2 separate regions of the Homo sapiens genome follow, and region 2 is linked to region 1. The links come from fine-mapping of genetic effects on gene expression. Tissue or cell type: spinal cord. Region 1 holds a variant in brackets; the other region holds the start of a gene. All regions are shown on one strand. Distances are between the middles of the regions.

The links.
Region 2: it holds the start of KCNS3, and the variant in region 1 is fine-mapped to the expression of KCNS3 in spinal cord (GTEx, PIP 0.98).

The regions. Positions count from the first base shown.
Region 1 is chr2:17,909,983-17,926,802 of GRCh38, reverse strand. KCNS3 (potassium voltage-gated channel modifier subfamily S member 3) reads right to left here. Exons shown (of 3, transcript NM_002252.5): 2 at 8,932-9,123. Among named protein-coding and RNA genes, the nearest start is that of KCNS3, 40 kb to the right of the region's middle. The variant C/T (reference allele first, on the strand shown) is at 8,151.
Region 2 is chr2:17,872,258-17,888,779 of GRCh38, reverse strand. It overlaps KCNS3 (potassium voltage-gated channel modifier subfamily S member 3), which reads right to left and starts at 10,113. Exons shown (of 3, transcript NM_002252.5): 1 at 9,974-10,113. LOC124907737 (a long non-coding RNA gene) reads left to right here and starts at 12,218. Exons shown (of 2, transcript XR_007086226.1): 1 at 12,218-13,415. RefSeq lists silencers at 9,993-10,042, 10,133-10,332, 10,343-10,502.

The sequences.
Region 1 (16,820 bases):
ATCAGAGGTCTTGGCAGCAGCCCCTTTCACCACAGGCCTAGAAGCCTGGAGGAAAAAAGTTTTTATGGGCTAGGCCTAGGGCCCCGCTGCTCTGTGCAGCCTTGCAACATGGCACCCAGCATCCCAGACATTTCAGCTCCAGTCATGGCTATAAGGGGCCATGGTACAGCTTGGGCCATGGCTTCAGATGGCGCAAGCCCCAATCCTTGATGACTTCCATGTGGTCTTGGGCCTGCAAGTGGACAGAAGAACTGAGGTTTGGGAACCTCTACCTAGATTTCAGAGGATGTATGGAAATGCCTGGAAGTCCAGGCAGAAGTTTGCTACAGGGGCAGAGCCCTCATGGAGAACCTCTGCTAGGGCAGTGCAGAAAGGAAATGTGGGGTTAGAATCCCACGCAGAGTCCCCATTGGGGCACTGCCAAGTGGAGCTGTGAGAAGAGACACCCACTGTCCTCCTGACCCCAGAATGGTAGATCCACTGACAGCTTGCACTGAGCACCTGGAAAAGCCACAGACACTCAACACCAGTCCATGAAAGCAGCTGGGAGGAGGGCTGTACCTTGCAAAGCCATAGGGGTGGAGCTGCCCAAGACCATGGGAGCCCACTTCTTGCATCACTGTGACCTGGATGTGAGGCATGGAGTAAAAGGAGATCATTTAGGAGCTTTAAGACTTAATGGCTCCCCTGATGGGTTTCAGACTTGCCCCTTTGGGGCCAATTTGTTTGGGGGCCAAAACAATCCTTTGCTTTGGCCTATTTCTCCCATTTGGAATGGAAGCATTTATCCAATGCCTGTACCCCCATTGTATCTTGGTAGTAACTAATTTGCTTTTGATTTTAGAGGCTCCTAGGTAGAAGGGACTTGCCTTGTCTCGGATGAAACTTTGGACTTGGACTTTTGAATTAATGTTGAAATGAGTTAAGACTTTGGGTGACTGTTGGGAAGGCATGATTGGTTTTAAAACATGAGGACATGAGATTTGGGAGGGGCCAGAGGTAGAATGATATGGTCTGGCTTTGTGTCCCCACCCAAATCTCATGTTGAATTGTAATCCCCACGTGTCAAGGGAGCGACCTGGTAAGAGGTAACTGGATCATGGGGGCAGTTTCCCCCACGCTGTTCTCATGATAGTGAGTGAGTTCTCACAAGGTCTGATGGTTGATAAAAAGCTCTTTTCCCTTCTCTCGCCACTCTCTCTTGCCTGCCACCATGTAAGACGTGCCTCTTCCCCTTCCACCATGATTGTAAGTTTCCTGAGACCCCCTAGCCCTGCGGAACTGTGAGTCAATTAAATCTCTTTTCTTTCTAAATTACCCAGTCGGGTATGTCTTTATAGCAGCGTGAAAACAGATTAATACATTGTCTAAAGACTTAGAATCAATAGGAATGTCTGGGTTAAGATAAGCAGTTGTGAAGACCAAGGTTTTATCATGCAGATGAAGCCTCCAGATAGCAACTTCAGAGAGAATAGACAGTAAATGTTTCTTATCAGAATTAAAGAGACTGCACTATCAGTCCTAAGGTTCATGTTGATGTTGACGCTGGTAAGCTTTTCCTGAATTCCAAAAAAGAGGAGGGTATAATGAAGCATGTCTTACCTCTCCTTCTCATCATGGTCTGAACTCATTTTTCAGGTTAATTTGGGAATGACGTTGGCCTAGAGGAGGGGTCCATTCAGATAGTCAAGAGGGCTTAGAATTTTATTTTTAGTTTACACTAGAAAGAGATGATCTACACAAACTAACTCAAGAAGAAAAAGGAAATCTGAATAAACCTATTTATTAACAAGTAAAGATACAGAATTTGCAATTTTAAAAATTTTCATATGGAAAGCTCATGTACAGATAGCTTTGCTGGTGAATTTTACCACAATCACCACCAATCTTCCACAAACCCTCCCAAAAATTAGAAGAGAAAGGCATACTTCCCAGCTCCTTCTATGAAGCTAGTATTCTCCTAATACCAAAACTAGAAAAAGACATCACAAGAAAACTACAGGGAGCATCCCTTATGAATACAGATGAATAAATCCTCAACAAAACATCAGCAAACCAAATCCAGCAACATATAAAAAGAATTATATTACCATGAGTAGTGGGATTTATCTCAGGAATTTAAGGTTAACTTAACGTGTAAATCAATCAAGGTAATATAAATACTAAAGAAATAATGAAAATGACATTATCATCTCAAAAGATGCAGAAAAAGCATTTGAAAAATCTAGCACTCTTTCATGATTAAAAACAAAAACTCAAAAACTAAGAATAGAACAGAATTTCTCCAATTTGATAAAGAGCATCTATGAAAAACCCACAGCTAAAAACATATTTAATGAAAAAAGACTAAAAGCATTTCTCTTAAGATCAGGAACAAAACATGAATGTCCAATCCCACCACTTTTATTCAACATTGTACTGGAAGTTCTAGTCAGGGAAATTAGGCAAAGAAAAGAAAGAAAATGCATCCAGACTGAAAAGGAAAAGTTAACCTACTTCTATTTGCAGATGACATGATCTTGTATATAGAAAATCCTATGGAATAGATATACAAAAAAATTAGAACTAATAAATAAGTTCAGCAATTTTGCAGGATACTAGATTGATATACAAAAAAACTGTATCTCTATATACTAGCAATAATACAAATATGAAATTAAGAAAACAATTATATTTTCAATAGCATCCAGAAAAATAAAATATTTAGAAATAAATTTAACAAAAGTGGCATAAACCTGTAAAATGAAAACTACACAATGTTGTTGAAAAAATTATGGAAGAAATAAATGAATAGAAAGACACCCAATGTTCACGGATTGAAAGATTTATTATTGTTAAATGGCAATACCCTCCAAATTAATTCATAGATTAAATACAATTCCTATAAAAATCCTAGCTGCCTTTTTTCAGAAATTGACAAATTGATTCCAAAATTCTAAAACTTCAGAAATTGACAAATTGATTCTTGACACACTTGTCAAAAATCAATCAATAAACTGAAAAATAAGCCCATATGGGCTTTTTGATTGATTTTTGACAAGTGTGTCAAGACAATTCAACAGGGGTAAGAAGAGTCTTTTCGATAAATAGTATTGGAACAGCTGGATAGCCACATGCAAAAAAATCTAAATTGGATATGTATCCCACACTATATACAAAAATTAACTTTAAATACATCAAAGGCCTGAATGTAGGTGTTAAAATTATAAAACTCTTAGAAAAAAAATTAACATAAATTTTCATGACCTTGAGTTAGGGAATGGCTTCTTAGCTATAACACTAAAATTACAGAAAAATAAAGAAAAAATAGTTAAATTGACTTTATCAAAATGTAAAATGCACTTCAAAGGACACTATCAATTCAAAGGACAAGTATCAAGAAAATGAAGACAACTCACAAAATAGAAGAAAATATTTGCAAATCATATATCTGATAAGGATATAGTATCCAGAATAAAGAACTCTTACAACTCAATAATAAAAAGACAAATAAACTCCTTTAAAATGGGCAAATAATTTTGATAGACATTTCTATGAAAACATATAAATGGCCAAAAGGTACTTGAAAAGATGCTCAACATCATTAGACATTAGGAAAATGCAAATCAAAATTACAATGAGACACCACTTCATACCAGTATGATGGCTATAGTCAAAAAGTAATAATAATGCAAATGTTGTATTATGATACATCAGGTGTTGGCAGGGATGTGGAGAAAGTGGAACCCTTGTGTGTCATTGTAAGCAATGTAAAATAGTACAGCCACTTGAGAAAGCAGTTTAAGCCCATTCCTCAAAAAGTTAAACAGGTTTACCATATGACCCAGCAATTCCATTCCTAGGTATAGTCCCAAGAGAACTGAAAACATATGTTCAAACAAAAACTGTATGTAATGTTCGTAGCAGCATTATTCATAATAGCGAAAAAGGGGAGATAATCTAAATGTCCATCAAGGAATGAAGTTCTGACAGACTACAACCTGGATCAACTTTGAAAACTTATGCTAATGAAAAAGGTCTACTTAAAAAAAGACAATAAAAGATCATATATTGTATTATTCCATTTATATGAAATATCCATAATAGTCAAAACTATAGAAACAGAAAGTAGATTAGTGGTTGCTGGGGGCTGGGGGGAGGGGAGATGGGTACTATTAATGGATTTGGGTTTCCTTTGAGGATGATAAATATGTCTTGGAATTAGAAAGTTGTACAGTCATGAATATACCAAGAACCACTGCATTAAACCCATTTTTAAAAAGGTAGATTTTGCTGTATTCAAAGCATATCTCAATAATACTGTCATTTAAAAAGGGATTCCATCCCAGCACTTTGGGTGGCCAAGGCAGGAGGATCACTTGAGCCCAGGAGTTTGAGACCAGCCTTGACAACACAGTGAGACTCTATTTCTATTTATCATTTTTTAAAATTATAATAAAAATAAGTGAATAAATAGGGATTCCAGCTAATAAGTAAAAAAAGAAATAATAGAACTCAAATCTCATAATAAAATAATAGATCTAGGCAATGATAATCAATGGCTGATAAAATCCGGATAAAAAGCTGATGGGGAATTTCATAACAGAGATCAGAGTTACAATATTTGAACCCACTAATCAAGCCTAATATAATAAAATAACTAGATTTTACTGAACAAAATAAATATTTTAGAGGAATATGGTCAATAACACCACAGGGGTGCAATCAGCAAAATCAAGACTGGGAAACCATACAGGACAAATGACACAGATCAAATAAGAGGCATATCAAACAAAGCCAGTGTACAGACTTTGTACAGATCCTGATTCTAACCAGCCAAATGCTTAATATATGTATATGTATTTATATATATATATATATATATATATATATATATATATATATATACACACACACACACATATATATGAAAATCAGGGACATTTGAAAACTGATATGGTCTGGCTCTGTGTCCCCACCCAAATCTCACGTCAAATTGTAATCCCCAAGTGTCAGGGGAGGGGCCTGGTGGGAGGTGATTGAATCATGGGGGCAGACTTCCCCTTGCTTTTTTCATGATTGTTAGTGAGCTCTCACAAGATCTGGTTGTTTGAAAATGTGTAGCATCTCCCACTTCACTCTCTCTCGCTCTCCTGCTTCACTATGGTAAGATGTGCTTGCTTCCCCTTTGCCTTCTGCCATGATTTTAAGTTTCCTGAGGCTTTCCCAGCCATGCGGAACTCTTAATCAATTAAACCTCTTTCCCTTATAAATTATTCAGTCTCACGTAGTTCTTTATAGCAATGTGAGAATGAACTAGTACAAAAACCAACTAGATACTTGATATTATAAAAAAAATCATTGTTAATTTTTCAGTGTCCCAATAGTAATATAATTATGTTCTTAAAAGAAAACCCTTATCTTTTGGAAATACATACTAAAATATTTATTGATAAAATTACACAACATTGGGGATTGATTTCATAATAATACATGGAAAGGCAGGAGCTCTGATCATACAAGATGGCTATGAGTTAATCACTGTTGCAGCGGGTCATGGATAGGCACAAAAGAGTTTAATGTATTATTTTATTTTTGTACATGTTAAAATTCTCCATTAAAAATGTTTTAAGAAAAATGTGCTAAGCATCTTTTTTCAGGCTATGCACTGTGGTAAGTGCTTTCATATACACTATTATTCACTCTTTTATTCTCAACAACTGGTGCAGTACATAGGCACTAGCAGGCAATGAGTACATGTAACTGAATGAATGAATCATTGTCTTTAATTCTCTAACAGCCCTAAGTCATAGACCTTAGACTCCCGTGTTGCAAATGGGGACATCTGAGGCTCAGAATTTGCCCAACGTTGTCCACCTTTTATGCGGCAGACTCTTTCCACAATGCCTCAAATATGAGTATTTAAAGTTTATTTTTTTAAGTGGGAGGAGGTAGAGACTGGCTGATGTTCTCATTTGCATATTATGTCAGCCATACTGTAAGGAGATTGACATTCACATGCTGAAGACACATGGGGTCTAAAATCAGGCACATCTGAGGGTACAGTGGCATTGGCCACAAAGTAGAAGACCCAACTGCTATTTTCATTCTCTTCTTAAAGCTAAACTTAGCTTCACTGTATTGATTCTCCTCCCTACTATCAACCCACATCACTCATGGTGAGAACACTATATATACAGTATTTGACCACCTTGTCCCTCTTGGTGTTTATAAGATTGAAAAGAAGAAGAATATGTCAAAAATCCAAGAAACTCCCTGGCAGCGTAAAATGAAAACTACCATTGATTCAGTTGTCTCCAACTGGCACCCTGTAAAGCTTTTTCAAAGCCATTAACCTTTTATTCGCCTCCTCTTGGTCCACTTCCTGCTCTTGTTGCTTCATGCTCTCAAACTCACCTAAGAAAATATTCTCAAAATTGTGTCTTTTCAAGGCTGACTCATACACATATACACAAGCTCATGGCTGTCTCTGATAATGCACCTGCTTTGCTCAGAAAAGTAATGAAAGTATTATAATACAAGCCAATTTGTCTTACTGGACAGAACTGCTTTTTGGTATCAATTTCATAAAAGTAAATAAAAACCCAGATTTGTTTTTCCTTCTTGTTTTGTAGATGTCCAAAAATCTACATTAATCCTTTTTCATCAAAGAAAAAAATACACCATTTTCAGCATTTAACACTGCCTTCTTTTTGGAACATTCTTCTAAGAGTTTTCTTTTATTCTATTAAATTTAAAAAGAAAGCTCATTTTGATTTTTTTAAAGAGTAGGTCATGCTAAATTCAATTTCTGGTCATGCCATGTGGGGATATACAAAATGGAAAAACCAAGCAAACGTAAACAGAATTGGAAACCTAAACTCAATCCATACCCATGTCTCCTCCTTACCAACCTCCTACCAGGTGCCTCCCTGGTAAGAGTCTTCTCTTACAGCATTGTCTGAGCATGGCGAGGATCCTACATGGAGCCAACACCTCCAGTAGCTTTCCAAGTGGTGCAGCCCAGTCCACTGAGGAAGGCTTGCTGTAAAGCGTGAATCCCACCGGCCAAACAGTCAGGCAAGAAAACTCCCTGCCAGGTCTGTTCTGCGCTGGACATGTTCTGACAGCATGGGCCACAGTTGGACAACACATGAATGACACAGGTCCATACAATTTGCAGGGTCCCAGGGTGCTCTATTCCAGAGCATTCATAAACTGAATGCAACGTTTCAATGTTGAACTTAACAAAACAAAAACAGCATGTCCTCTTATTCATGCTGAATTATCAGCATCAACTAGCAAAAAAGAGGGAAAGACTAGGATTCTGAAAACTTGTGTCTGAGCTGCCTCTTCTTATCTGCATGACCTTGGGCAGGTGAAGTCTTCATCTATAGAAGGAGTTTATAAACCCACCTTGAGGATAAAATAACAAATGTAAAAGTCTTTTGAAAACATAAAGCACAAGCCACATGTAAAACTGTGTTCCAAAAATAAAAGACTGATATAATGGTATTTCTACCTTCCCCCACTTCCTTCCCCTATTCCCTTCCCTTCTCTTACTCCCACCAACTAGTACAATCACATTAAAGTTGTACTCACTCCCTCTGGATCTGTATTTAGTGTGACTGCTACTCTCTGGAAACTCCAGGGATCTCTGTAATTCACACAGCTCATCTCCAAGCAGAGAGCTGCTCAGAAGGCTGAGTGATTTAGTGAGCCAAACAACCAGAAAGCTGTCCTCTTTGTAAAAAGCAAAGAATCGTAGATGATAGCTTTTCAAACAGAAACAGGAAAAACCTGGACTTTACCACAAGAGGGGCCCCTAGCCCTGCTGTAAATACTCCATCACATCTCCAGCTGAGCCAGGTTGCTTGGAATCAAGCACATACAGAGGTCTGTCATGGGAAAGCTCTGCTGCCCAGGGGAGGGAGTTTTGGAGAATTTGGGCCCAGGCCAAATTAATGGTTCTCTCTTCTCTACCCTCTCCCATAGCCCATTTGTGTACACCTTGATTTTAGCACATATCACAAGGCATTATGATGTTATCTACAATTCTCCTTATTCCCCACAAGTCTGATTGTTGCTCACTCTAGACTCCAAGCTTCGCTGTGGAAGGGACCATGTATTATCCTCTTACAGCTATAGCCCCTTATGCTAAGTGCTGCCCA[C/T]AATCTAGTAAAAGATACTTGCTTTTATCTGGAGGAATTAACAAAGGCTATTACTACTTTTGTCAAAGAGCTAGCAGAATGATCTAGAACAGGCATGGCAAAATTAAATACCTCCGGTGACCAAACAAGTCAAACAAATGAGATGGTTGGGGATGGTGGTGAACTGTCCCCACTTGTCTAAGAGGCAGAGGCTACTCAGCACTAGAATCCTTTTTAGGAACAGAGGCCCAGTATAGACATATCATTCCGTCTTCCCAGGAGAACCTGGAAACCCTGATCCTTATGTGGAATATCTCAAGTTTAGTTAGAATTGATCCAACATGTTTGAAGCATGATGTGGCTCAAACAAAGATGTGCCTCTGGCCCAGGTACATCTGATGAGCTACCCAGTCTGTGACCTGAGCCAGACTCTGACCAATTCCAGTCCACAACACACATTTTAAGCCAGACTGGCTAACATGAACACAAATGGAACCTAGTTACAATAACAGTAGTGTCATTCTCTCAAGTCTGAACTATAAATGTCAAAAAAGGGAGAGGGAGAAAATGTGAACCACAGCATTTTCTAAAGTTGGCCAGTGGTGTCCCTTAATATAACTCCAATCTAATCCTTTGAGACCAACACTTTTCTTCCCATAGTCATCTGTCCCAACTGCCCAGTGGATTTGACCATCAGAAGTGTCTAACTTTCATCTTTCTCACTACACTGTAACGCTCATTCTCATCCTCCTTTGATAAATAATGGGTGCTTGAGAAAATAAGATAGAATGGCAACTCTTACCCTTGAGGTGGAGATGCCACACGCTCTGCCTTCATCCTGCCCGGTGGGACGTCCATCATCATCCAAGAAGCTCTGCCCTTCTCAGCACACTGGAATGTGTGGTGCACATAGGCATTTGGTGGCCAAAAAGAAGGGAAGAATCCTGTTCTCTGGTTGTACAGGCCAAAGCAATCACTGGAAAATCACTCTCACCTGCAGAAAAAACCATCAGCCAAGCTGTAACTGCAAGGAAGAAATACACCCAAGACATTCTACCTCAGGATCAACACTCTGGGCACTTTGCTGATGAGACTCAAATCTGAAAGCCCCACCTAATTCTCAGCAAGTGGGGGGTGGTCTCTTCCCCCTGTGGAACCATCACTGCCATTGGACATGTGCTAGGTTTAAGGATCCTCAGAACTCAACAGTAGTGAAAGTCTTAGGATTCCTCTACTGACAGAGGCCACTAAAACATCTAAAGATAAAACCAGGCACTAGAATTAGGGCTGCAGTTACCTACTCCCACATGGTTTCTTATAGAAGTGTTATTCTCCCAGCTAATTCATCGAGATATACTTGTAAGCTTCTAAATGAACGCATTCTAATCCATTTCAAAATCTACCTTCTGGGTATTACTGCTATAATAGAATTAACACTGCTGCTCTAATTTGAAATCAATAGATTTCAAAGGCTGGCCAAATTCAATTTTGCTTTATTTGCCCATTATTATATTTCACAGATCAGAAATGACACAGGTGCAATCACAGTTTATGTGTGTGGTTATGTATATGAAGTGTGTGTTGGGGGGATGTTTTAAGTTTCTGTCACAACAAATAAAAAGCCAAATTTCAGTTTCTCTCTCTGAATAAATTTTAAAAGGCAAAAAAAATCCAGTTTCCACCCAGGTAAGCCTTGCCTCATGCTGATGCATTCCCATACATTGGTACTAGCTTCTAAGCATCCATCCATTGATTTTCATGTTTTTCAATCCACACCAGGTCCAAAAGGGGGAGGGAAAAAAAAGAAGAAGAAGAAAATATTGATTCTGATAAAAAAAAAAAAAAGTGCCTCTGGCTAGGCCAGTGATTAAACAAACATTCACTGTGGTTTATGATCTGCTGGGCATTATCTTAGGCACTGGGATTATAAACCAGATGCAGTGCCTGCCCCCAGTCCCTCAAGAGCTCTCAGGCCCAAAACCAAATAAACAAGTGAATAGCATCCTAACAACATCAAGGGGCAATGGAGGGGGAATGAAGCAGGAACACAGTTTCCAAGTTGTCCCAGCAACAGCAGAGCAATCCTTCAGCACATCTGGACTTTGCAGAGGGGTAAATTCCCACCTCCAACAGAGATTATACTGAAGAAAGATCCAGAAGCCAAATGCAGCTCCACCCAAACTGAACTTATAAGATGGAACACTTAGCAGAGGAGGTAGAGAAATCTCAACAGGGTAAGTAAAATCAATTCAGGTGCTAAACTCCTCCTCCTTCCTCCTCCATGCTTTCCTCCTCCTCCCCTTCCTCCTCCTCCTTCTTTCTCCCTCTTCCTCCTTCATGGCCTCTCAGTGGCATGTCCTTGGGTCAGCCTCAGTTCTCTGCATTCCAATGAAACACAGAACTGCTGCTGCACCTTGGTAAAAGGATATAGCACACACATAGTTTTCCTTTCCCTATCAGATGCCTTTCCAACTGTAGCACACTTTAAGGGAAGGTAGGATTAATCTGGCTGAGAGGTAATTAATAAATCACTATATTAATTACTAAAGAAAAAATAACCAAATATTTAGGCTATGCAGCATTTCTAAGTATCCCCAAGCACCGCCTAAAGTTCATTGCACTGGCTTACCACAGAAAGGTCAGGGCTGGTCCACAGACAGACTGAGAGGTTAGCCAAGTGTATCCTTTTTATAGCACTGGTATGTAATGGGCCTTTAGTCTATGTCTAATGAATAAATGACATCCCAGGCTGTCCCTTTCTCTCTCCCTCCCCACAAAACTCAGAATTCCTGTGCCTTGCCCCATTTTCCATCACCATGATTCCTATCCAAAAAAACTGGATTTTCAGACAAGATGTAATACCAGACAATATCTCTTGTTATGAATTTATGTAAATTAGCACCTCTCTAAGAGCATTCACATTCTAAGTGTGACTTCTCAACATAAAATTATAACTAGCATCTTCTGAGACCCACAAGAAGCTAAGCACCTTTTTAGGATTTTTACACACATCTCCTCTGCCCTCAGCCATTATAAGTGGTATTATCCCCATTTTATATGGGGGACATTGAGGCTCAGAGAAGTGATTTGTCCAAAGTCCTACACCTAAGGTGCACCACAGCCAGGAGTTAAACTCAGGTAGATCTGCCTGAGTTCAATTAGTGTGGAAAATCAAGATCCCTCTTAGTTGTTGGGGAAGGTCAAGCAGGGATTGGGGGGAGTGAGCAGAACATGACCCAAGCCAGTAGGCTTTGGGGAAGAAAAATGTGTCCATTCAACATATCCTCCCATTCTCCCATTCCTGCCTAACAATCCCATCCAGCGTTTCCATTTCTCTATGTTCCTACCAGCCCGATCAGTGTTGGCCTGTTCAAAAGAAGAGAGCATTGTTTGTGACTTAGCACTTAACAGGTTTCTGACTTTGCTGAGTGATTCAGCCCGATCCTGGAAAACACATCAAGCTCACTCAAATATTGCCACCCTCTGCAGAATTCCCTCCTTTCTTCACAAAACTCTCTGCATCATCCTTTTACTTCCCTCCAGGCTGGCTGCATTTCCTGGTGGGTTGACTACAGCATTCAAAAGTGAACAAATGACTGCCTCCATTATTGAGAGGGAAAAGGTAATGACTAAGTGGCATATTGGACTCTTTCATCTTCCAGACTCCTGACACCCAATCTTGGAACAGAACCCAAGGAAAAGCAAATGGACAGCAGACAGTCCACATGAGTGAGAATGACTCCCTGCACCATTCTCCCAGGTCTCAGAATCATAGGAGTAAGGTTGCCCTCCAAAAACTACAAAATCAGTGCCTGATAGATCAAAGCAGACACTCCAAGTGACAGTGCACCGTAGGTCTGTGTCCTCTGTGCTTGCACAGAATCCTGTGTGGCCCCATCACTGTCCTGCCCACAATCTTCTGAAATGTTGTCACATCAGTGCCACCCTCTAGACTGAGAAAGCCTCCAGTTAGGGACAGTGTCCTAATATCAATCTTCATATTAATTATCGCTGTCACAGGGTAGTGCATGACACATTTTTTGAACCAATTCCTCTTCCCTGAGCCAACAAGACTAAAGAGTAAATTAATGAAAAGAATAAATGTGGATAATGAAAGGCAGCTGGTAAGTAGTAGCAGCAGAGAAGGAAAGTGTGAAAGACTGAGGCTGGTTCCCACGACCAATCCCAGCAGTGGTGAAAACAGAAGAGTCTTAACCTGAAGACTCAGCATGTCCAACCCAAATGGTGGGACATCTCAAGAGTGGGGTTTTGAATGTCAAGACCTCGGAGTTTCAGGTATCTGTATAATCCCCAAAGACTTCCCTTTGTTCTGACTCCAGGCTCCCTGAGGTGCCTCCTGCTGATCTGGGTTCCCACACACCTTGCTATGAGGAGCAAACGAGCTATGCGGCCAACACAAGTGTCTACTCTGTCTGCTAGTTCTGTCTATGACTGTAATGGAACTTAGTAAGACAGGAAGAGGTGTATTTATGCAATTTCCTGTGAGTTTCAATGCAAGTCAACCTCCTACAGTTTGATCAGCTCTGGGACACCTGAGGTGAAATTCTGTAGTTGCAAGGCTAAGAGATAGCTGACTCCGACCCAACCTGTGATAATCTTACCTGGGAAATGGGACCTGTGAGTACCCTCCTGGCAGCAGCTAGCTTATCTGGAGATATCCTAACCTTGAAAACTTCTACGGCAAGATGTCTCAGCCTCGGCACTATTGACATTGTGGGGTCAGGTAATTCTTTCTTGTGGAGGCTGTCCCATTCACAGTAGAGTGTTTAGCAGCACCCCTAGCCTTCATCTACTAGATGCCACTTGTACACCACCCACCCATCACAATACTGTGACAACCAAAAATGTCTCCAGATACTGCCAATATCCCTTGGAGATCAAAATCATCCCCACTTAAGAACCAATGCTCTATAAGTACAGGAAAAGAACCTCAGGCACCTGTTTGGGAGCTGGAAGGTCAGAAGACTGGGAATGACAAATTGTACTAATACTTCATCTGCTGACAGGGGCTGGGGATACCCTCCCAACACTTGTTCTTTTAGAATTCAGTCATGGCATTTACAGTGTCATACAACCAAAACTTTAAAAATGAAGAAAGATAAAAGCAAGTTTAACCTTTTGTGGAAACTCAAACCATGCTTCATGCAATTTGAGTCTAAAGGTTAGTGAGTCTGTCTTAAGTTTTCTAACATTTTAGTGCCAGAATGATATACTGTGCATATGCACTAATCTAGTTTCAGATCTATAGCCTGCTGCAGCTTTCTGCAGGTAGGCTATTCAGCCTGCTGAATACGCCCACTCCTGACCGAAGTTCCAACCTTGTGGAGACTAATTGGTGTCCCTGGAAAAAATGCAAATTCATGTCAGTTTTGTAGTCTTGCTACCATACATCAACGACAGACCTACTTTTAATAAAATCTGAGAGCAATAAAATTATATGAATAATAACAAAAGGTGAAATCCAACCCTACCTCTATCTGGCTTAACTATTGAAAACTGTCACCCAGTGTTTAATTAAATAAAATTAAAATATCATAATCATACTGCCATAATTGGATTTAGTGTGCTAGAAAAAAAATGTACTGATATTTAAATCCTATAATCCAAAGCAATCAGAATCAAACATCTTCCAGTTGATTCAGACAGGGCATGACTAAGAATATCCCTCCACTACTAACTCTGTCCAAATTTAACTGTCAAATTTCAAGAAGTACCTTAAGTTAATATGGCAAATCCTTGAATTAACATGATTTTTAAAAATCTGTCCCTAAAAGAAAATGAAAACTTCTCAGGGTCTAATATATTCAGGGACAAACCAGTAAGTGCTTTCTAAAGCAAAGTCTCTAAATTATTTTTGAAAGGTTAGTATAAATTATATTTTTCTTGGTCATTCAGAGTGAGTAAATGCCATACCAACTGCAGGAATCCCAAGACTTGATGCATGGGTAACTAAATACCACCTTCCTTTCCTCCTGCTCTATGTTTCTAGACAACCTCCCCCTGGGGAATGGAGGGGAGGCAGCAGGGACGCAGCTGTGTTGCCTTGGCAAGAAAATCTAGAGAAAGGAAAGGAGAGACAGGCAGACCAGGCGCTTCCCTGCGGAAGGGTGTGCACCTCATAGAAGGAAGTACAACACAGTCACTGAGTGTTGACAGGGCTCTAGGGTCACTCTGAGTGGTCCATGCAACTGCTCCTGGCCACAGAAAGGAACTGCACTGGCTCCATCCACCTTGTAGTCATCTCCCTACCGCATGGCTAGCTGGAGACAGAGGCTAGGGCTGTCCCATTTGAATGCATCAAACAACTGCACTAACACAGGCCGATAAAGAGGAACTGAAAGCAAGCAGCTTTGGAGTGAGCAGGAAAGTATCATACAATGATAGCAGTGAAAACTTCTTAAAGAAACCTTTCTGGAGGACATCATAGCAATGTGTATCACAAAATCCCAGGGTTTCACATTTTGGCATGTGTCCTGAAGAAATAAATCAGACAAGCGTTGAAAGATGCATGTACAAGGTTGTTCACTGCATCATTATTTGTAAGAGTGAAATGTCAAAGACAGCCTGCACGTCCATCAATAGAGGAATGATTAAATAGACTGGGGGTAGCCATGCAATGAATACTCTGTAGCCATTAAAAATGCTGAAATAATAAAAGTTACAGAAGTTACAGCTTCCTTATACTAAGTCTGGCCCTGTGCTTTTTACATGTCTAAATCCATTTAATCCTTGCAGCACTCAGACAAGTGGTGTTTTTATTGCATTCGTTTTGCAGATGGAGAAACTGGTAAATAGAGAAGTTAACTGATTTTAGGGAGTCAACAGCTATTAAGTGACAACTCCATGATTCGAATCCAAACAATAATTCTTCAAAGCCATTCTCTTAGCTACTACAGCTCTACTGCATGTAAAACCATTAAAAAGTCACAATATGCTAAGTACAAAAGAGAAATAATTATGACGCAATATATAGCATGATCCTATCTTTGTAAAATATGTCTTTTTAGAGTAAATGAGAATATATACCAAAATGTTAAATTCATTGTCTCTGGATAATGGAATTTGGAGTGATTTTGCTTTCTACTCTCTACATCTCAACATTGTGTACATTTCTTACTTTAAATAAATAGGTATTATAAAATATTTATGAAAATAGTTATTTCTACATAGAAAAATAAAAGGTCATAAGCAGCTCCAGTCAGCATCTGGGCAGAGGAAAAGGGGAATGAGATAGATATCAAATGAACTTATAGATTCACATGAGAAAGGATCCCCAGCCCCCAGCCAAAGCCCTCCACTATCCTGAGCTAATGCTATTCATTCATGGCTGCTTTATGACAGGCAGTATCCTGGGAACTACCAAGGACAAAAGATAACATGGATCTTGCCCTCAAAGCTTACAGGAGCTGAGAAGAACAAAAAGGAGGGTAAATGGGTAAATAAATAACGGCAATACAAGGTCCAGTAGTATGTCAGGCATGGGAAAAGGTACAGAGACGGTATTGAGGAAGTTCAGAAGAGGTAGAGTCCCTCGAGATAAGGAAGCGGGGACAGCTACATGAATAGGTAGTATTTGGAGATAATCCTTGAAGAGCGAGTCAGGTATGAACAAGTAAAGGAGCCAGGTAAGGGTAAGAAGGCTCTTCTCCAAGGAGAGAAAAGAACACATACAAAAGCATGGTGGCAGGAAAGCTCGTGGTATGGACAGAGAGCAGAAAATGGTAGACTTGGGCTATAGGAAGTAGCCTATGACCTAGAGCTATTTATACAGATTATTTCTTTTAAAATATGAAGAATTCTGCCTGTACTATCCACATCTTTGTGAATTAGGAATACCAAAGTAAGAGATGTCTATGGGAGAGGAGAATGGATTGATTGCCTGTGGCCACACAGAGAATCTGCGGCTACAAAAGGACCACACCTCGGGCCTCCTGAAAGATTTAGCCACAAGGAACCAATCAGAGACTATAAAGACCTCTTGGAGTTACTGCTCTTCCTAGAACATTTAAAAAAAAAAAAAGTAGACACTTCCACTGGGTGTGCCAATCCACCAAGAATCCCAGTGATCTGAAATGGCAAGCAGTGAATTCCAGTAGTGCCAACTGATATGCTGACAACAACAGAAACAGCAACATTTCATTACTTCATCCCTCTCCTCTTTTGTATTCCATTTAAACTGTTCACCTAAGAGTTAGAGTAGGGGGTCTGTGTTGAAATTCAGGAGGTCCTTGAATTTAGACAGAAAAAAATATTTATTTTCACCAATCTCTAACTAAAATTTTAGCAATTCCTTCCATTAAAAATGCAGGCATTGGCCCAGGGTAGTGTGTATTAGCAGTGCCAATGACTTCACACCAATAGAAGTATGAATAGCTTCATATCCTATCAGAGTTATTGAAGAGATCTCAAAATATCATTTATACTCATTATTACTTTGGAATCACAGTAGTTATAGACCTACTGCTAGATTTTATTTAAAGAATTAATAAGCAAATATATTGCTAACTCATAAATTGCTTTTACTATTTTGGTAATTGCATTTCAACATAACTGGATTCCTTTACATCCTGTAGGTTTCATCTTTTGTGTTTAAACACGCTATTCTGAAAAGGGGTCCATAGGGTTTCTCAGACTCCCAAAGGGGTTCATGGCAAAAGGAAGGATTAAGAA
Region 2 (16,522 bases), 38 kb after region 1:
AATGGAACAGAATAGAGAACCCAGAAATAAACCCAAATACTTACAGCCAACTCATCTTTAACAAAGCAAACAAAAACATAAAGTGGGGAAAGAACACCCTTTTCTTTATATATATATATATATATATATATATATATATATATATATATACATTTTTTTTATTATACTTTAAGTTCTAGGGTACATGTGCACAACGTGCAGGTTTGTTACATATGTATACATGTGCCATGTTGGTGTGCTGCACCCATTAACTCATCATTTACATTAGGTATATCTCCTAATGCTATCCCTCCCCTCTCCCCCCACTCCACACCCTTTTCAATAAATGGTGCTGGGATAATTGGGTAGCCACCTGTAGGAGAATGAAATTGGATCCTCATCTCTCATCTTATACGAAAATCAACAAGATGTATTAAGGACTTAAACCTAAGACCTGAAATTATAAAAATTCTAGAAGATAGCATTGGAACAATAACAAAAATTCTAGAAGATAACAATGGAAAAACTCTTCTAGATATTGGCTTAGGCAAGGATTTCATGACCAAGAACCCAAAAGCAAATGCAATAAAAACAAAGATAAATAGCTGGGACCTAATTAAACTAAAGAGCTTTCACATGGCAAAAGGAACAGTCAGCAGAGTAAACAGACAACCCACAGAGTGGGAGAAAATCTTCACAATCTATATATCTGACAAAGGACTAATATCCAGAATCTACGACAAAAACAAACTCAAACAAATCAGCACAAAAAAAACAAAAAATCCCATCAAAAAGTGGGCTAAGGACATAAATAGACAATTCTCAAAAGAAGATATACAAATGGCCAACAAACATATGAAAAAATGCACAACATCGCTAATGATCAGGGAAATGAAATAAAAACCACAATGTGATACCACTTTACTCCTGCAAGAATGGCCATAATAAAAAAATCAAAAAACAGTAGATGTTGAAGTGGATGTGGTGAACAGGGGACACTTCTACACTGCTGGTGGGAATGTAAACTAGTACAACCACTATGGTAAACAGTGTGGAGATTCCTTAAAGAACTAAAAGTAGAACTACCATTTGATCCAGCAATCTCACTACTGGGTATCTACCCAGAGGAAAAGAAGTCATTATTCAAAAAAGATACTTGCACACATGTTTATAGCAGCACAATTCACAATTGCAAAATCGTGGAACCAACCCAAATGCCCATCAATCAATGAGTGGATAAAGAAACTGTGATATATATATAGATACAGAGATAGATAGATAGATAGATAGATAGATAGATAGATAGATAGATAGATCATATGATAGAATACAACGCAGCCATAAAAAGGAATGAATTAACAGTATTTAAAGTGACCTGAATGAGATTGGAGACTATCATTCTAAGTGAAGTAACTCAGGAATGGAAAAATCAAACATCGTATGTTCTCACTGATATGTGGGAGCTAAGCTATGAGGATGCAAAGGCATAAGAATGATACAATGGACTTTGGGGACTCAGGGGGAAGAGTGGGAGTGGGGGAGGGATTAAAAGAGTACAAATATTGTGCAGTGTATACTGTTCAGGTGATATGTGCACCAAAATCTCACGAATCACCACTAAAGAACTTACTCATGTAACCAAATACCACCTGCACCCAAATAACTTATGGAAAAATAAAAACAATAATAATAATAGAAGAGAAAAAATAATAAAATAAAAATTACATGAGAAAGCAACGTGTGCTGCTTTAAGTCTAGAGAGGCTGGGAGAAGAAAATTCGGTTCTCATCACCAAAAAGATGCACCATGCTGACATTCAATTTCTAATTACATCAACAAGTCTGGGGAACCTGCTTAAAAAACAAAGTTCTCAGGTTTTGCATAAACTTTCACAAGACTCCTATGTTCACATCTTAAAAGAGCCTACTTTGTAGGAATTGTGATTTAAGGAGAAGATGAGAGGGCATGGGGACCCTGATACCTTTTTACACTGTGGCAAAGGTGGGTAGGTGGGTGGGTGGATGGATGGATGGATGGATGGATGGATGGATGGATGGACATTTAAATGGGTGGTGGAAGAATGGGATGGATGGATGGATGGATGGATGGATGGATGGACGGACGGATGGATGGGGACACCCAGATGAACACTGCCATACATGGTACTTTCCTTTCTTTTTACCCTTTCATCCCAGAGGAGACAAGCTCTGTCATGGAAGCTCAAGCCTGAGCCTCAGGGCTGAATCTCATCTTCGTAACATCTGAGCACCAAGGGAAGACTGGGGTCTTACATCAGTGGCCTCACGAAGGTACCATACTTAGAAAACTCAGATCTTAAAAACCCACAAAAAAAATACTTCCAAGAAGTGTTTTGTCTGAACTCAAAGACAAGAATAATGAAATGCCTTTGCTACAACATCTCCACTCAATCCAAATCTACAAACAACAGTATTCAACCATGAAGTTCTCCCATCTCTTTGGCCAGTTACATTTTTATCTCAAGTAAATCATAGGAAATGCTTTTCGGTTCACCATGGCATGTCCATCAGGACTTAGGAAAGCCAATCCAGTGCATAGCAGAATAAAAGTAAAAAATATATAAGCATGTTGAAGCCCCAAATTTAGTCTGCTGGCATTCTTTTATCTCTATACACTAATTATTTGTCAGGATTTAAGCCAGCATTCCTAAAGTCCAGAGGCAGCAAATGACTTGACTGATTTTTGGAATAACTTTCCGTTCTATGGCCCTGTTTGTTTGTTTGTATTTGTTTTTTTGACATGGAGTCTCGCTCTGTTGCCCAGGCTCTATGGCCCTATTTATACTCTCATTCCCTACAACTACAAATTGATCACTGGATACTCTATCCTTCTTTAATGCCCCATCAGGTTATCTGTGACGGTCATTATTGATGTTTAGGCCAGTATATTCTGTTAAATGTGATGTGATGGCTAATTTTATGTGTTAACTTGGCTGGGTCACAGGGTGCCCAGACATTTGGTCAAACATTATTCTCAGTGTTTCTGTGAGGGTATTTTGGAAGAGACTGGCATATAAATTGGTAGACTTTGAGTAAAGCAGACTGCCCTCTATAATGCTGGTGGGCTTCATTAAATCAGCTGAAAGCCTGAACAGAACAAAAAGCCTGGACCCCCTCAAACAGGAAAGAATTTTCTAGCAGCCTGCCTTTGGACTTCATTGTAACATCAGCTCTTCCAGGCTGTATAGCAACTGCCTCCAAACTTGAAGTGGAGTGTTGGCTCTCCTGGGTTTCCAGCCTGCTGGCCCATCCGGCAAATTTTGGACTTGCCAGTCTCCATAATTGCGTGAACCAATTTCTTAGAATAAATCTCTTTCTACACATATGCACAGCCTATTGGTTCTGTTTGTCTAGAAAACTCTAACACAAATGGGTTCTCAGAAAACAGACCAGATGTACCTCTCTTATCATCTTTTTAACAGATATCCATGCGTACAGAGGAAGCGTCTCATGCAATGAAGAAGACCAGGTAAGGAGGAGTCCCACTGAAACACAAAAAGTGGCTCATAACCATGCCCAGGACTCTCCATCAGTCCTTATCCCATCTACATTGGAAGGGTTACTGTCTCCTCACCACTAGACTTTATTATTAGTGTCTCTCTATTTAAGCTAATTTGAAAGCAGCTTATCCATGATCAACAATGAGCAAATGCTTAGAATCCTACCACAAATGTTCCTACATCCCCATTCATAGTTCTGCTAATTCAATTTATAAAAAATAACCCACATTAACACATATAAATAATGCTATTAAAGAACATTGCAGGAAGACTGCATTTTTAAAAAAATTATAAAATCACCAGGCAGTGAGGAAAAAAAAAAAAAAAAAACAACAGGGAAGGACAAGCAATATGCTCAGTTACCCAGATTTGGCGACAGAACCAAAGCTAGGATTCAAATGTCTAATCTTCTAGAAGTACTCAAAGTGATATGCTTAAAGTTACCTAGATTTTGAGATAAAGCCAGAGATAGGATTCAAATGTCTAATGTTCTAGAAGTGCTATAACTCTATACACAGAGGTATATATCTGTTAATTTACCAACGAGCTGGACTCACATCCCTAACCTCAGCCAAGGTTGCCTTCCACATAGACACAAACCTGCCCCTACACCCATCCTGTCTCTCTGCTCCCTTTCACAACCAAGCTTTATGTGTATGGTCTGCACTTCCTCACCTCCATTCATCTTTCAACCCAGGCCAATCTCACTTTAGGTTCCACTTCTGCAACACACAACACACCTCCAAACGAGGCTTCTGCTTCCCATGCTTGTACCTCTTCAGTCTATTCTTCTATCTGTTCTTCACAGCCTTCCCAGGCAATCTTGTATAAATTTAAATTGGCTTGTGACACTCACCTTCTGCAAATCCATTTTTCACAGCCCTCAGAATAAACCATAAGACCTTGAACTTGACCTAAAGGGCACAGCTTGATCTGACCCCAGCCCTCTTCTTTTTAAATATATATATATATATATATATATATATATATATATTTTTTTTTTTTTAATTATACTTTAAGTTCTAGGGTACATGTGCACAACGTGCAGGTTTGTTACATATGTATACATGTGCCATGTTGGTGTGCTGCACCCACTAACTCGTTATTTACATTAGGTATATCTCCTAATGCTATCCCTCCCCCCTCCCCCCACCCCACAACAGGCCCTGGTGTGTGATGTTCCCCTTCCTGTGTCCAAGTGTTCTCATTGTTCAATTCCCACCTATGAGTGAGAACATGCAGTGTTTGGTTTTTTGTCCTTGCGATAGTTTGCTGAGAATGATGGTTTCCAGCTTCATCTATGTCCCTACAAAGGACATAAACTCATCCTTTTTTATGGCTGCATAGTATTCCACGGTGTATACGTGCCACATTTTCTTAATCCAGTCTATCATTGTTGGACATTTGGGTTGTTTCCAAGTCTTTGCTATTGTGAATAGTGCCGCAATAAACATACGTGTGCAGGTGTCTTTATAGCAGCATGATTTATAATCCTTTGGGTATATACCCAGTAATGGGATGACCCCAGCCCTCTTCTACAACCTCCTCCCAGCTGTTCCCACCCTTGTTCTCTTGAAGTTCCTGCATAGAACAAAAAGAGGCTCAATGCTCATTCCTGCCTTAGAATCCTCAGCCTGGAATTATCTTTCTCCCACTCTTCACTTAATGGACTCCTTTTATCACTCAAAATGAAATGTCTCTTCCTCAGAAAGGTCTTCTCTGACCCTCTCATCTAAACTAGTGCCTCCCTACCCTTGTTACTCTCTCCCATGAAGTCCTTTAGAGAACTTACCACTACTTAAATTTTGCATTGGTTTGTTTAATGCCTGTCTCCCTCCCACTTCTCACCCCACCCCACCCCACCCCAACCCCCCACCGTTTCCTTTACCACAGTATACCCAGCACCTAGCATAGTACATAACATCATGTAAGTACTCAAATACTTGTTGAATGAATGTATGCACGGATTTGAATATATAATGAGAATACATATATGTGACTATATAAGTTAATCATTATGTCACCTTTGGTGAGCATCTGGTAAGTCCTCGGATGGCTGATTAGTAGAATACTCAGCAAGATACTTCATTCATTTGGCACTTCACCAAACTCACTGAGGCTGGCTGCTGCCAACATTAACTGCTTAACTGTAACATTATTGGCTAAAAGCAGATCTTATGCCTTTATCGTTCAATACTTGTGCAACTGAAGACAATATTTATACAGTATCTCCTCAAAGCAAATCGTAGTGCAAGGCTGTGCAGGATTCCAAAGAGAATGAGACCTCTTGCCCACAAGAAAAATACCACAACCTAGCCTAGTAACTATTTTAGCTTATTAAAGAGTTTACTTTTATAATGTGTAGATTTTGATCCTCTTAACAACTGTGAAAAAAAAGTATAATGTGCAGATATGCTAAAAAGTTTCAAAAGATGATCTAGAGAAATGATAAAGAAAAACAGGGATGAAAATTCTAAATCAGTTTCTACATTTTGTTGTACATTTTAAGCCTTGTTATTATGTTCATGATAATTGAGTATTCACTCCAGGCTTCACAAAACAGCAGGCCCCTGAAACAATAAAACAACAACACTCTTCTCCTCTTTCTCCTCCTCCCCAGCTTGTACTTACTCCCCATCCCCTGCCTCCAATAAGCACCCACAGTAGTCAAGACCAGCAAGCAAAGGCCAGGTCCAGGATGAAATTCAAACTCAGTTCCCCACTCCCCAAGGACTCTCGATAGCTCACTCCCTCCTGTTCTGCTCTCTAGCTCCAGAGAGAAGTGAGGCAGAAAGATGCTGGACTTAAAGTCAGAAGACCCCTGACTGTGTCCAAGTTCAAGGCTCAGTTTGCCTTAATTTCTTCATCAGCAATATGGGCTTCCTAACTTCTGTCCCACCTATAGCTTATAACTCTCAGTTGCTCTGAGGACTGGAATGAGATATCCCATGTGAAAGTTCCTACAAACCACAATAGGTTATACAAATGTGACCGAGTCATTGTGATTTTTATCAGGACTTAAACATTTAGCATCTTGTATTGTTCTATCTTGTCTCACTGATCTGGAGTCTCCAGATCCACTATAAGTTCAAGCTCAGAGACCATGTCATAGATTCTGCCTACCTTCATTGCCTGTAGTACTGGGCACTTAGCACCCATACAATAAGCACTTGTGAATTGGTCACTGGTTGATTTACTTGACAAATTTGCGTCGGAGTACAAAGTGTTCTGTGGTTTTTCTGAATTTCTTATATTGATAAACACATTTTCTGAAACTCACCATAATGTTTCCCTGGCCCATGATCTTTATGGTTTATCTTCCTTTTTTCCTAACCAGCTGGGCAGAATTTCACCGAAAAGCAGACCATTTTGTCAAAGGCAAAAATAATATTTTGCTAACGCAGTCTTTGAGATTCCTTTTAAGGCTGAGACATGGGACCCAAAAGTCACTTGGTAACTGTAAGCCCCCTCTGTCACTGTTCAACAAATGTAGTCCGAGATCCCACTAAGCACAGGGAACAGTGTTGGAACTGTAGGAATAAATGAGGAAAACTGAATCTCACAGTGGCTCTGCAGTCAGACTGCAAGGGATAGAATCCTAGCTTCACCTTTTCCGGGCTGGGTGACCTTGTACAAGTTACTCAGTTTGTCTCTCTTTCCTCCTGTAAAATACGGTGATAATAGAACCTACCATCCTAAGATTGTCATCAGGATGAAGTGAGTTCATACATGTAAAAGCTTTTAGCTTTTAGTGCCTAGTACAGCGTAACAACAAATATTAGAGATCTAGGTCAGTGCAGCTAAACAGACCAAGACCCAGATTAGCAAAATGACATGTCAAGTCAAGGAGCCATAAAGAAATAGATATCACAGCTGGAAACTGGGTCCCCACATCCTATTCTCTTCTCTATGATGTTTCTTTGTGGGTATTTCACACAGGTGGCACTCTGGAAGATGCACTTTCCTGACACCTGATAAGCAGAGTCAATAAACACACCCACCTTCTCTGCTTCAACATACCCTGCAGAGTCGTCCTTCCTCCTAGTGAGACCTCAGGCCCACCATTTCCCACTGGCCTCCCATCTGACTCAACATGCACCTGGGGGGTTCCATCTACTGCTGGCTCCCACAGCAATACTGCAGTGAAGAAAGCAAGCATCACATCCTCATGCAGTTGTTATGGGAATTAAATGAGATAATGCCTGGAAAAGTGCCTAGCAGAGTATCTGATATATAGTATGCAGCTAATAAATGTTATCTATTAAAAAATAGAAGGAAAAGGAGGAGGAAAACCCTGTGGTGCCTACTCTCTCAAAGCTGACACACATTCCAATGGCAAATGCCAGACACAGGGCAGATTGAGATGGGTGGTAGAACAGAGGGATGCACGTCTGTGAAGAATTACAGTGAAGGGCAAAACCCACTGAAGACAGGAGGGAGCTGCAGTTCCCACTCTCCCCCTTCCTTCTTAAAAGAAGATGATGATACTCAGTTGGTGCTTTGCTGGCAAACTCAAGCTCCAGAGCTTTGGATTTTTAATATTATAATATTTCAGAACAGAACAAAGACTGCTTCTGACCTCCCAATTTGCCCTCATACACTTGACCAGCAAAACCTTAGCGTAGCTGCATTCATCAATGGCTCTATTCAGGCAATTATGGGTCAGACAAAAGATTCAATTAATACTGATCCCGCAAGTCTCCTTAGTATATTCACAACATGCTTTGGATTCAGAGTTCTATGGCACCTTCATATGACCTTCTCCGGATCCCAATATTGACAATTCCTAGTTCAGAAACGACAAACATAATATTAGAACAAGAGAAGAAGGGAAGCTGGTGAGAAAGAAAGAACAGACTAGACTGGGTGCAGAAATTATATCATCCATTTGCTGTCTGTCCCCGAGTGCATCCTGGGGCCTGGCCCATGGCGGGCTGGTTGGAAATGCATACTGAACGAGTCAATCTCCTCAAGAAGGTCACCACCCAGGTAAGAAGTGGAGCCTGCACATTACACCAAGTTCAGCTAGAGAATCAAAGCCACCTCTTCGGCTCCAGATATGCAGGGAAGACAAAGCACGAGGGCATATGCCTTCAGCTAAGAGATAGGTGCGTGCTTCCTGTTTACCTGGGCAGGTATTTGCAAATAGTCTAAGAAGGGGGGCAACTAGGAGTGACTTACACAGTTCCAAGTGAATGGTTACGCAAATCGCTTGAGTAAATACAGGGAAAGAAACAGGAAAGGCTTCTGAACTGTTTGTACTCATCTGCTCCAGTATTTTCAGAGGGTAGGGTGAAAGACAAAAAACCCGAACGAAGGCTCCGGGCCAACCACAAAGCTACTCTCCGGCAGGAACGTAAGGAACACCTACCGCCCCTCCCCCCACTTCACGCCTTGGCACCAAACCAGGGCCCCTGGGTCATTTTGGCAGGTGGAGGTAGCTCTTTGCTGTCCTCTGCCCCTGCTGCGGGCCACCCGAGTGAAGCTTTCGGCTCGGTCTCCCCAGACAAAACCGGGGGGAGACATCAAGAATGCAAAAGGTGCTCCTTTCTCCAAATGAACGAGAAGGGACAGAGCGGGGTTGGGGGTGCAGGACAAGCCCTGCAATGCGAAAGGCGCCCAGCCAGGCTCGCCGCGGCCCCTGCCGGCAAGACTGGCTCGCTTGCTAGCCAAGGTGCCTCAGGAGGTCGGGCAGCCACCCAGAAAGGCGCGAAAAAAAAAAGAGGAGTTCCTGACCCCGGGGTGACCCTTCCCCACCACTGCCACTGATCCAAACGCAGAGTCCGCAAGTGACTCCACACCTGCGCTGCAAGCCTCACGCCGTCCCCACCCAGGGCGCAGCGCTGCACGAGAGCAAGGGCCCTGGGTTCGCTCTTCCCTGCAACTGTCGCGGGGCGCCTAGCACAGCTGCAGGGCAAAGGGGAGGGGAGGAATGACAAAGAAGGCGGAGCAGACGGCCCGGGAAGCATTTACAAGCGCCAGGAAAGCGCCTCCTCTCGAGGAAGGGAAGGAACGGCTTCCCGGCCAAGGAAACGCCCCGGGGATGCCCCTACGCGAGGTGCCGCCTTTCTTCGGCTCATCGATTCTCCCGCCTCCAGGTGGTCCTCCCCCTGACCATAGCCCACCCCACTCCCCGAAAGCTGATCCTAAATACCTTCCCCGAGGCTTTCAAATCAACCCAGCCACCGCTTCAACAGCCCGCAGTTCACGCAACAGGCGGAGCCTTAGGGCTCCAGCGACGGCGGGCTCTGGGGACCAGAGGATGCGGGCGCCGCGGGCCAGACGCCCAGAAGGACGGAAAGTGCTCTGCGGCCGTAGACCCTCGGGGTCGTGCACCCGCGACCTGGACCACAGGAGACTGGGGCAGCAAAAGGTGGGGGAAGGCGCGGTAAAGTTGCAGGGTCGCCCGGAGAAGTCTCCGGAGCGCGCAGGGAGGTGGGGACGCCAGCCAGGTACCTGCAGGAGTCCGGACGCATCCAGCTAGCTCCGCTCTGCGACGCCGCCTGCCCGCGCTGCAGGGATCAGGCCTCGCGGCGCGGCCCCGCGCCTGCCGCCGCGGCGGCGAGGAGAGCGGGGTGGCCCGCGTCGGCCGGTCTGTCCGTCGGTCCCGCCCCGCTAGAGCGAGGCTCCCGGGAGCTGCGGGCGGGGCGGGGCCGGACGGGACGGGGCGGGGCCCGCCGCTCGGCCGCCGCCCCATTGGTCGCAGCTCCGCCAGCCCCTCGCTTCGGGCCCGCAGCCGGGCGCCCCGGGCCGAGGGCGCGGGCGGCTGAGGACTGCGGGGCTCCGACCGCCAGACAGGCGGACAGACCCATAGACCTAGATGCTGCCCTGCCGGCCGCGCGCCCCCGCCCAGGCCCAAGTGCAGAGTCACCCCGGAGCGGCAGGCGCTGTCCGGGTGGGACCAGGAGCGCGCCCCGCGCCTCCCACCTGCGCGCCCTCCTGGGCCGGAAGCGCCGTGGCCCTGCGGGAAAAAGATGACCTCCCCCGCGGCCCCGGCGGCTGGGGCAACCGCCTTTCTAAAGTCGCGGCCCAAGCGACACTTTGCTAATTTGCCTGGATTTCCTCAGGAAATCGCGAGGCCCAAACTTGTTTTAAAACAAAGTGCGAAGGAGAGTACATATAGCTCCAGTTCCTGCCAATGTTTGCCATCGGTCCCGCTGCCTGAAGACTCAGGCACAGTGCAGAACAAGATGCTTTGTCTTATTCCTCCACTCACCGAGTCAGAAGAGGTGCTTGGACATTTGCACCAAGCAGATGCGCCTCATATGTAGAAGAGGAACCAGTCGGGTCCCCTTTCGGAAGGACGAATGGAAGAGGAAGTCAGGGGACGATGCCTTCAGCCGACGTTGAGGAACAAACCAGGACCTCGGCGAGGACAGCGTGTGGTCCAGAAGGCATCGCTGGCCTCGCTGCACTGAGCGAGAGCGCTCAGTTAACAGCCAGGAGGAGAAATGGGACGCTTCGGGACCCACCCCCGCGCTCCCCCTCCCGCCCCCAAACTGCAGATTTTTAAGTTGTGCAGACGTGGAACAATTCCTCGGAGCCAGCTGCTCCAAGCTAAGGCGCCCAGTGTTCCCTGGGTTCCTACCCGCAGCATACGCCCTGCCAGCTGCCCCCAAGCCAGCACCCGCTGACCACTCACCTCAGGCAAGCACCTAGGAAGACGATGCAGATTCAAGCTCCAGACCTTGAGCCAAGCGCTGGGGAGGGAATGGGGGCAAAGAGATGGTGGAAAACACTTTCCTGAACTTACTGAATACCCTATGTTATGTGTGGGTTTTCTAATTGTTCTTTGCTTAATGAAAAACCCACGTTGGAAATCAGAAAAAGGCAGTAATCCTCACCGTATCTTGTGGGCTTCAAAGAGGAGGTTTTCCCCTTAAAGGGAGTTTTGGTCCAGAGGAGAGGCTAACAGCAGGCAGGAAGGGCAGAGGAAAAGATAAAGCCTAGGGTGGTCTTCCCCCTGAGGCCTGGAGCCCACCAAGCTCCAACAGTTTCATTTGGCTTCTGGGAAGCAAAGTACAGATGCATGTGTCTGCAGAGCACTGTTCTGAGCCATTTGTCCCTAATTCCATGGTTCTTTGGTTCCTCCAATCTTGTCTCCTCTCCTGTGGAAGAGGATCCAAAGCATTGGTCCACACTGCTATTTACAAGTGGCTGAAGAAGGTAACTTTCTTACATAGTTCATCTTTAGCATAAGCTCTAAGATTGTTCTAAAAATATATTTACATTTTATCAACACCTTAGAAGAATGCTTCCAGATCTCTCCCAGCAGTTACCTATTTAATCATTTTAAAATCACTAAGTTTATCCAAAAAGTCCAGCATGGTTTACTTGAGAAGGAAATATGTTCAGAATCTCTAAGCACTGCAGAAGGCACCTGCAGTGCAGAAGAGTTGGCAGTGAGGTCTTTCTCCTGGGGTCTGGGCGGAACATGTGAGCAGTCGGGAAGGCACACACAGTGGGAGCCAGTAAGGGCCCCTGTGCATCTGCAGGAGCTGAGGACAGAAGGGGTGGGCCTCCACGGTGGGCATGTAGGAGTGGGCACAGAGAAGGGCCACAGATCTGAGACAGAGACAGACAGGACTTCTTACCCTGCTGAGCCCTGCAGGGAGCCACTTCGTCTTTCAGCCCTGATTTTGTCATCTGTAAGGAAATTTCCTCTCTCCCAGGGTAATCATGTGAAGCCAATGAAATAATAAAAAGGACCACATCGGATGACCCCTGAGGCAGGTCTGCTCCCCAAAAGTTTACTCTTGAATGTTGACCAAGGTTGAGCTAGGCAAAGTGGTAAATTCACACACACGGTATGTAGCCCCTTCCCCAACCCCAGTCTCCATTACCGGGGGCATGCTGTGAACTAACTGCCTCCTTTTCCCCACACACCCACTTCCTGCCCAGTCTTTATGCCTCCCGATATGACATCCCGTTCCCTCTTAATTAACTGTGCCTATAGAGAAACATCTAGATAAACCATGCATTTAATCTGTGAGGGGTCAATCATTTAATCATCGTTGACAATAATGCTCACTCCTCTGTGGTTTCAGAGGACTCCTGGAGTGGATGGAGACACATGCCACTAATGTGGGATGCATTTCAGTCTGTCTTCCAGGCCTCGTTTGGAGGTCTCCCTCTCTTACCCACCTATCACACATCCATGTCTTCCCTTCCCTCCCCAGAGCCAAACCTGTCCCCGACTTTTTATTCTCACTAAAGTTCAAATGACAGAAATCAGCTAGATTAGTACTTGCCTTAGTCCTGAAGGAAAGGGAAGTGCTCATTAGCTTCTTAAATTGGAACAGGTCTGCAGGTGAAAATGAAGATGTGCTCATCTCTGGCAGGAAGGTTGGGAGTGAGGGGTATAGTCATAATGAGCAGCGTTTATTTGGTGTGTGCCTCTCACTTGCCACTTTCTACCCAGCTGCCTGAATATCACTCCAGTTAGTCTGAGCACATGAAACACCTGCAACTCCCCAGACCCACCATGCTTTTTCTTGACTCTCTGAATGCACAGCAGTGCCTCCTCAGCTAAGAACACAGTTCCCCATCACCAAGCTTTGCTTTGCCCAACAGACCCCTTCTCCCTTAGGATGAGATTCAGTGGATAATCACATCATAATCACGACCCTCTGGGAAGCCGCCTCTCTCATCCTGGGTTGTGTGTTGTGTGTTTCCTTTCCACACTCCCTCAGCAGCCTTTGCCTCCCACTTTCATAGAATCTACCATATGGGATTTTAACTGTTTGTCTTCCACTAGACAATAAGCTCCTTGAAGACTGAATTTCCAGGAACTTCTGTTGGATCTGCATGTTTGTGAAGTGAATTACTGAAGGCTGCCCAGTTTCATCTGATCCTAGTCAAAACCTAAATCCCTTATTTCTACGCTACCTTTTGCCAGGTAAAAATAAAACATGTAAACCATCATATCGCTGTCTTTGCTTGGCTGCCAGGAAGCTCAGAACTAAATTTACATTAAATTAAATTTAGTTCTCAATCAGCTAGAATGTTTTTATTTCAGATTATTGCTACAATGATCATGCTCTTTTCACAAAATTATTGTATGCTTACTCTAACTGCCCTGTGGTATTATTTTTATATCAAAAGTTTCTTAAGGCCGGGTGCAGTGGCTCACATCTGTAATCCTAGCACTTTGGAAGGCCAAGGCGGGTAGATTGCTTGAGTCCAGGAGTTCAAGACCAGCCTTGGCAATATGGCAAAACCCTGCCTATATAACAAATACAAAAATTATCCAGGCATGGTGGTGCATGCCTGTAGTCCCAGCTAGTTGGGAGGCTGAGGCAGGAGGATTATTTGAACCTGGGATGTGGAGGTTGCAGTGAGCAGAGATGGTGCCATTGCCCTCCAGCCTGGGTGACAGAGAGAGACCCTGTCTAAAAAAAAAAGAAAAAGAAAAGAAAAAGAAAAATTCCTTAAATCTTTATGATCTTCAAGTACAAAGACTTGAATTCTGATTCAGCTCTGTCCCTGATTACCTCAGTGATATTTCCTCTTGGGCCCTACATTTGGGTTGGGACTATATCATCTTTAAGGCCCTTGCCAGGTCTAAAAGCTTTATGTTTCTATAGATAAAAGGAGACACTTTATAAATTATTAAAGAAAGAAAAAACCCTGTGACAGGCTATGTCTCCAGGCACAAAGGAATGCTGTCCTCAGGTACTCAGAATCACCCTCTGAAGGCCCTTGAGTATTGCCCAAGGTGAGTGCCACAGAACACCTGTGCCTGACCCTAGGCACGGAAAGGAAGGTGTTTACTCCATCACACTGGCAGGTCCTCATAACACTCTAGTATAGGAAAGGCTCTGTCTGAGAAGTTAGCCCATGAAAATATTTCCAGGGATGGCCTTCCAGATTGCTCATACTCTGGTCACAACTTGATTTTTTACCACATTTCAAGCTCTTCACACCTTTCTCTCTGCCTTACTCATTCATCACCACCTCCCCTCCCCTCTCCTCTGCACTTTCCTCACATTCCAGCCCGACAGAAGTGGCCCATCTCTCCTCTATGCTCACTGCATGCCATCTGAGTCTTGCCTTTCTGGTGCCTCGTTCCTATAGTGTTTCCTTCTCCACCGGAAAATGCCTGCTTAATCTCCAGGATCCAGTATATGTCACCCATTCTCTGAGGCTTTCTCTGACTCGCAAAGCAAATTTAGTTGCTTGCTCTACTGGGTCCCATTATACTTTGTACAAAGCTCCGATTACAGTTAGACTCCTGTACTATCATTCATTGTCTATATGGATGGATTAAACTGTGAGTTCCTTGAGGGCAGGAACTAAGTGGTGTTGTTCATCTCAATATCTTAAGAGCACATTATAGATGCTCAACAAATACTTTAAGAATGAAAAGTGGCCAGGTGTGCTGGTTCATGCCTGTAATCCCAGCACTTTGGGAGGCCAAGGTGGGTGGATCACTTGAGGTCAGGAGTTCGAGACTAGCCTGGCCAACATGGTGAAACCCCATCTTTCTAAAAATACAAAAATTAGCCAGGCATGGTGGCGGGTGCCTATAGTCCCAGCTACTCGGGGGCCTGAGGCCTGAGAATCGCTTGAACCTTGGAGGCGGAGGTTGCAGTGAGCCAAGATTGCACCACTGCACTCCAGCCTGAGTGACAGAGTAACACTCTATCTCAAAAAAAAAAAAATGAATGAAAAGGGAGATGATTGGATGCCTGCATAGATAACTGGATGGATGGATGAACAAAGACAACAGGGGAAGGTATAGGAAAGCAAACCAAGAGGGAGCAAAGACCAGATATGTCATCCTCATGGTTGTTCCTCTGGGGGCATTTCGCACCTCTTTAGTAGCCCTTCATTTGTGGGGTGGAACTTAAGGCACAGCCTTCATTTCCAACTAGACAAATGAAGAGTATCCCCATGACAAAGAATCCTGGGCATACCCTCATGATCATTTCTGCTTTCTCAGTAATAATATCTCCAAGTATTACTGGGTACTAGAGTGACCAGCTCTTCCCAGTTTGTCTGAAACTGCCCCAGTTTTAAAATTCAAAGTCCAGCATTTCAGGAACCACTACATTCCAGGGCAAACCAGGACAGTTGGCCATCCTCCTAGCGATATTGCTGCCTAGGATAAAATCTACACATCCTAGCAGTGAGAGGACAGCATGTACCTGACTTATTTCCTATGGGACGTCAGTGGAAGTGGCACATTCAGCTTCTGGGCAGTGTCCTCACAGGAAGAGGGGAGTGCCCTTCCCCTTCCCTCTTTTGCCTTCATGCTCTCTGGAGCACAGAGAAGATCACTGGATCTGGATAGACATTTGAACCCACAGGTACAAGCCACATAATAAGGATGGTCAGATGAGTAGCTAGAAGGGGCCTAGGTCCTCTTAACAGCACTGGACTGCCCTCATTTATATGAAAGAAAGAAACTAGCATCTCATTTCAGCTGTTGTTATTTGTGGTTTCTGTCACTCACATCCATCTTCAAGGGTAGAGTTTCTGCCTGCTGAAAAGTGGGGATTCGGATGTCGCCCTCACACCTGGGTGCTGGCATCTGAAGATCCCTCTTTTTCATGTTCCCCAGTCCCTTGTATTATGAAAATACCCTATGTTGAAGGCGAGAGTAGCCCACACCTTCTGGCCCAGGTACCAGGTCCTAGTCTGTGTGTCTGGTGAGGTGACAATGGCAGTCAGTTCACTCCCTCCCACCTCCCATGTGCAGGCCACTGAGAGCTCCCAACTCTAAGCCAGAGGAGGTTCTGATAAGTGCTAGGCACAGCTGAAGTTTTATTCTAAAGCATGAGCAAACTGGGGGATTGTGTCAGAAGTATTCAACCTGTTGATGAGTTTCAGTGTGTTACAGTTTTGGCATAGCACTCTTGAGTCTTCATGATGGTTTTCATTAGTTCTTATAAGTTAAAATATTTATAAATGAGATTCAAATAAAATGTTTAAGGAATCCCACGAAGAATGGAAAGAAAGGAAGAAAGGAGGGAGGAAGGGAGAGAGAGAGAGACAGAAAGA